Homo sapiens: one gene and its partner. The protein of the gene in region 1 interacts with the protein of each later gene in a biochemical or structural test. Each region holds a gene or a part of one and is shown on either strand. Other genes may lie near its edges. The genes, in order: PRDX6 and STH.

Region 1 (3,825 bases):
TCCTGTTTTAAACCCAGTAACAGCTGGCCACCACACTTTACATTTAATTCTGAGTATCATGGCCTGCAAGCCCTGTGTGATGGAATCCTGCCTCCTCTCATCTCTTGTCCCTCACCCCACCTTCTGCAGCTTCTTCTCCAAGCATGCTAGCTTTCCTTGTATTCCTCCAACATGCCAAGCTCACTTGTAGGCCCAGTTTCTTGCACTAACTGCTCCTTCTGCCTATAGTGCTCGTCCCTCACAAGTATACATGCCTTGGTCACATCTTCTCTGTGTTTTTCTCCAAAGGTCCCTTCATAGACAGGCATTCCTTGACAGTCACTCTCCCACCCCTGTGCTGTTATTCTCCCCATCTGTGCTTGATTCTTCCCTGTAGCACCTGTTATCACCACTTAATAAACTTGTTTACTGTTTGTCTCCACTCACTGGAATGGAAGTTCTATGAGGGCAAGGACTTTCTATTATTCACTGCTATCTCCCCAGTTCACTACTATCTGGGCTCAATAAGTACATAAATAAGTAATAATAAGTTAACTAGTGGATACAGAATTTAAGTGATTTGTCTGTCAGAAAAAAACAAAACAAAACCTGCTATTCAGGTTAGCATTATTTTAAAAATGTAGCAATGTTAAGATACTCTTGTGATGTTATCCATGTCCTAAAGATGAAAAGTTTATGAACAAATTTTGGAGAATTCTAGCACAGGTTTAAAAGAATGAAGCTTAAGAGAAATTAAATACTTAATGACATTAATACACCAGTACTTTTACAGCCATGACTTAACGGAAATGGCCAATTAAGATTGTGCGATAAATATTTTGCCATCAGGGAAGGGTTAGATAAAATTTTTTTTTTTAAACCTTCTATTAGGAAAAGGAATCATTCTGACCAATAATTTTTCCAAATTATCTAAAAGTTGGAAAGCCATATAGGGAGTTTGTGTTGTGTATAAAAGGTGTTATAAAGACCTTGAAAAGGGCCTTTCAGCAAATCTTGAACTCAGCCATGAGGAAAAATCCTCCCAGTGTACTTGCGTGCTAGAAACAGGTAACACAGACCTTGAAGTTGGCCATTTAGAGACTGGCCCTTCAGGCAAGTAGAGAAACTGCTTTTTAAAAACATCTTTACCTTCCAATCAACTGGGGTGGCAACCCTTTTTTCTGCTGTCAGCTGGAGAGAGATGACTACCCTGAGAATCTCATCAAAGTTCCTGCCAGTGGTAGCTGGGTAGAGGATAGACAGCTTCAGCTTCTTATCAGGACCAAAAACAAACACCTGTAAAGCACAGAGGGGCATAAATAGGAAGAGTTCTTTGAGTGTTATTAAAGCCACTTAGAAAGCTCTGCAGTCATTAATAATGTTCAAGGGTATAAAAACAAGACAAAAACAAAGCATCTAGAAGGATACACCAACTGCTAATGTGGATGGCTGGAATACAGATAATTTTCTTCTCCCTGTTATTTTCTAAACGTAGAAGGGAATTCTATTTGGTTCTGGCTTTCCCAGTAAGAAAAACTGATATGCAAATTTAATCGAGGGAAAGGCTGTGTCAATTGGGGATGACTATCATAAAAATAATACTAATGGGAGTTGATATTGTTCCTTGAATAGTTGTGCATTTATTCAGATGAGGGATTGGGTTTGTTTTCTAGTGGGCGGAGGACAGAACAAATAAAAATTTAAAACAGAGCTGCCTTATGAAGAAGGATATGGCCCATCACTTTAAAGACAGGGCGGTCAGGAGAGCAGTCAGGAGAGCTATGAAAAGGTTTCTCAATTCTGGAAGACATTTTAGGATAAACAACTTTTTTTTTGTAGATTTCCATGAACTATGAATAAAGCAGTTGGAAAATTTAGCTGAAAATTGCATCAGCATTACAGATAATCAGTGATATTGTCGCCAATACACAGTTATTTCATAATCGTAGATATTCCCCTATCTCCTCTAGCTGGTACCAGCATTTACACGGACATACAGCCTGATCAGTTAAGCTAACTACAAAATGAATTTGTATGACCTACCACACGAGCTGTCACAGGCATGCCCTTTTCATCCTTCTCTGCTGGATCCAGCATGCCCAACAGGATGGCAAGCTCCCGATTCCTATCATCGATGATGGGAAAAGGTAACTTTTCTGTGGGCTCTTCACAATTGTAAGCATTGATATCCTGAAACACAAGTAAAAGGGGAAAGAGGAATCTAAACCCAACACATGCTCTGAATTTCATCAGTTAACAGCCATCACCTTGCAAGACAGGAAAGAGGACCAAATCACAGTAATTTTCTTTAAGCAATTTTAATTTTAAAAAGTGAGTAGATGAACACTCTTCATTCCAATTATTGCCAGGAATAACAGCAGAGTACAGTACTTAGGTTGTAATCATGGACCAAAGCTGTTTTCATGCCCAGTTCTCTTAAATTCAGCATGCTTTTACTGCTATGAGAAAATAGCAGCAACCCCTTTAAAATTGCAATAATTTAGTTAGATCCAAATACAAGGTACCTCTGGGTACCCAAATACTGTAAAAATCATCAGATAACAATAGGTTTGTTAAATCCATCACATCTAGAAATAATGCCATATGTAAAGAAAATCTTATAGATCTGGTCCCTACCTCATAAAGCACCCTGACTCAGATGCTAAGTTACAAGACAAATAAGAAATGACCAAAAAAAAAAAAAACAAATCACAAAACAAAGCAAACACAAGAATGGAGAGTTGAATATATACTTGAAGGACAAGTCAAAAATAAATGGGTGAAGAGGCAGAAGTAAACCTAAACTAGGGTGAAATTCAAAGAGAAAACAAAGCATTTCAAGTCTGAACTAAAGAAAAATGATACACTTCCCTCCTTCCCTAGTAAAACTTTATTCATCCATTTATTTCTACTTTTCCTATCCCTGGAAGCTTTTGGAGAAAAAAAAAATCTAGTTTTGTTATTTGATTAAGCATTGATATAGCACTTAAGGTGGGCTAAGCATTATGGTAAATACATGTGGAATACAGATGAGTAAGACACGGCTCCTCCCTTCAAAGGAACTTCTCATTTGGTTAGAGATGATTCCAGTATGAAGCAGCAGCAAATGCAAGACTAATGTTAAATGGTGGATGGTAAATACTGAAGTATACGAACACTCCCATTTGTAGGACTCCAAAAGTTACAAAAGGCTTCAAGAAAAGAACAGGACTTCTATCTAGGCCCTTGAAGGATGGGTAAGATTTTTCACAGAGAAAAGAAAGGCATTCTAGGAATCAGGAACTATATATATATATGCACACACACATATATATATGTGTATATATATTATATACGTGTGCATATGTATATATATGTATGTGTGTGTGTGTGTATATATATAAATATATATATATATAAATATATATATCTAATTTTTTTTTTTTTTTTTTTTTGAGACAGAGTCTTGCTGTCGCCCAGGCTGGAGTGCACTGGTGCGAACTTGGCTCACCGCAACCTTGGCTCACTGCAACCTCCGCCTCCCAGGTTCAAGCAATTCTCTGCCTCAGCCTCCTGAATAGCTGGGATTACAGGCACCCGCCACCACACCGGCTAATTTTTTTTTGTATTTTTAGTAGAAACGGGGTTTCGCCATCTTGGCCAGGCTGGCCTTGAACTCCTAACCTTGTGATCCACCTGCCTCAGCCTCCCAGAGTGTTGGGATTACAGGCGAGAGCCACTGTGCCCGGCCAGGAACGATATTAATGAAACATGTGGGCAACTCTGTACATAAACTATTGATAGGAGAGTGAGGAACTTAGTTGGATAGAGTTTAGCAAGTAATGGAAAAGAGGATTTAAAATTGGA
Region 2 (2,770 bases), on another chromosome or scaffold:
CCCCACCCAGCTCCTCCTCCTTGCCTGCAATCTCTACCCCTACCCAGCTGGTGCTCCAGTGCGGCCACCTGATTATCTGCATTTTCCTTTCAAAATAATTCCATTTGGGGCCCCAAAGCAATCTATGTTCACTGTAGCAAATCCTGAAAACAGAGAAAAGCACAAAGAAGAAAACAGAGAAAAGCACAAAGGGGAAAACAGACGTTTTCCGTTTTTCCCCCAATGATTTGCAGCAATCTGCGGCAGTTTTCAGCCTCTGCAGGTTCCCAAACGTGACTTGGCTCCTGCTCTTTTCCCTTTGGTGTTAGCATCTGTTCCGGCACGGTTGAGGGATTCTTCAGACTCCGCCAGCTTTGCCTCTTTTGTAGCCAAACATTTATTGAGCACTTACTGCATACTGGGTACTACATGAGGCCACAGGGACCCAAAGGTCTCAGCAAAAGCTCGTGGAGCCTTCAGGCCAGTCCAGGAGGAGGAGGCCTGACACCCTTCAGCGGGTCATTTTAAAGGCTCTTGTGCATGGACCCTGTATGACATTTTTCTTTTTCTTTTTTCCTGGAGATTCATGTGTTGGTCTTTGTTATGGCTGAGGTTTAGTTTCAGACAATTTTTCTAGGCTTTCCTGGCATTTAAGGGAGGCTGTGACTGTGTCCTCTGCCACTTTTCCACACTTCGTCCCCCAAAATATCTCAAGAAAAGTCAAGTCACCCTTTCTCCTTTAACCCTTTAGTAGATTTGGACGTGCTGCCTCCACCCAGCATGGTGACGTCATAACCTGGGGCTCCCATCTGCCCCTTTCTACACTTGGCATGAGGTCGCCTGACTCTCACCCCTCATGGGCAGAGGCAGGGCAGCTGCAGGGTGGGAGGGACAGTTCTGGCCCTGAAAGGGGCCTTCAATGGAAAGTTGTCTTCCCTGCTCAGCCCCATTCCTGCTGCTCTCTTCAGAGCTGTAAGAACTGGGCCAAATGGTGCCCACACCTTCCAAGCCAACCTCAGATGAACTCAGGGTCAACAGGGAAGCTACTTCCCATGCTAAGCTGAGGGTTCTGTCTCTGGCAACCTGAATCATCCACTCACACAGAGGCTGAGTTAAATTAACCCCGCATTCAATGAGGGCCGGCCACCTGCACAGTCTTGTGGGGGCTGCAAAAATGCATGAGACTTGGCCTCCACCCTCACTCATGGCCCAGACTAGGGAGCAGCAGACACATGCTCAGTGTGGTCAGAGTTTACAGGGGCTTTAAGAAGAGAGAGGGGAATCCAGGAAGACTTCCTGGAGGAGATGGCAACTGAACTTGGATTTAAGGGAAGGGAAGAGATAAGGAGAGAAGGACATTCCCCACCATGGGACACAGGGCAGGGTATGGCAGAACCCAGGGGCCCCCAGAGGTGCATGGGCGGGGAACCCCAGACGGGGAGCAGCAGATTCAGGCTAGGGGGAAGGGAGCACCTTGTGGGTGCTGCTTGTTATGTGACTTGAGGAGATCCTGGATGGCAGTCTGGGTGCTGGAGCAGGATGGGGGTGCATGGGTGGGCAATGGGAGAAAAGGCAGGAAAGGCCAGTGAGGGCCCCTCTGGGGTCTTGGGCAGCACCAAGGCCAGGCACCCTGGAGAATGAAAGTCACGGTGGTCCCAAGATGGGGCTTCTGGAGGCGACTTTCGAGAACCGAATGAGGACTGGAAAGTCTGGAGACGAGGGAGCGCATTGTCCCCAGTGGAAGCGCAGGACAGTTTCCCTCAGCTGCGGTACAGGACAGAGGCCCTGGGTCACCTGTGAGTTATTTCCCCAAGGTCTCTAACCAGGCCACTGTGGTGGATGAGGGTCCAGAGAGCCTCTTCCACTACAAGCTCCACATGCCTGAGCAGGAAAAGGCCGGACCTTAATTTAACCCGGATCGTTTGCCATCAGGAGGGAGATTCTGAGATGTTCTCTTCCTTCCCTCCCTCCTGTGTTCCAGGGAGCTCTGCCCTTGTCCCCACAGCCACAGGGGAGCCACTGTCTGTCCTTTCCTCGATGAGAGGAGGTGCTCTGGGGCACAGCCGAGTCTTCTCCACCTCTGTGCACCGCCTGGCACGCAGGGACTCTCAAAAGAGGCCTGATGCACAGAGGCAGGGTCTACACATGCGTCCCTTTTAACCCGACCGTCCATTTCCATCCCGATGGGATGTGACACTGCACTCACAAGCTTGTTCGGGGGCAGGGGGGATCCTGGGTGGGGGGAGGTGGCAGGGTTTGAGGCAAGGTGCCCATGTGCACTGGTGGCCACCCTCCGTCCAAATGCCCCAGGCTCAGACCCAAGTGATAAGAACTTCAATGGTGTGGAGAGCGCCTGCGTGGGGGAGGCAAGCTGACACGCAGGCCCAGGGTTCCAGAAAGCCCCCTAGCTCCCCGAGGCCCAGTGCCCAGAAGGCCCAGCACATCTGCAGCCTCAGAGTGAGCTGTGGTCCTTCTCACCCCCAGCCTCCTCTTCACCCTTCCCCAGCTCCCCAGTGCTGGGTGGCGGGAGCGGGGTCCTGGGCTGAATTGTGGTCCCCGCAAATTCACATGTTGAAGCCCTAACCCCCCTCCCCAACACCCCCGTACCTTAGAATGTGACTCTATTTGGAGACAGGGCCTTTAGAGAGGTGACTAAGTGAAAAATGAGGTCATCAGGCTGGGCCCTAAGCCATGGTGGGTTTTTTTGGTTTGTTTTATTTTGTTTTGAGACAGAGTCTCGCTCTGTTGCTCAAACTGGAGTGCAGTGGCACTATCTCGGCTCACTGCAACC

What was found.
Region 2: the proteins of PRDX6 (region 1) and STH form a complex in vitro, tested with the Homo sapiens proteins (one study listed by BioGRID).

What each region holds. Positions count from the first base shown.
Region 1 is NC_000001.11:173,483,705-173,487,529, reverse strand, and holds part of PRDX6 (peroxiredoxin-6), read right to left. Parts: intron 2,170-3,825; coding exon 2,023-2,169; intron 1,276-2,022; coding exon 1,129-1,275; intron 1-1,128. UniProt on the Homo sapiens protein: Thiol-specific peroxidase that catalyzes the reduction of hydrogen peroxide and organic hydroperoxides to water and alcohols, respectively. Can reduce H(2)O(2) and short chain organic, fatty acid, and phospholipid hydroperoxides.
Region 2 is NC_000017.11:45,997,695-46,000,464, reverse strand, and holds STH (saitohin), read right to left. Parts: upstream 1,216-2,770; 5' UTR 1,186-1,215; coding exon 799-1,185; 3' UTR 771-798; downstream 1-770.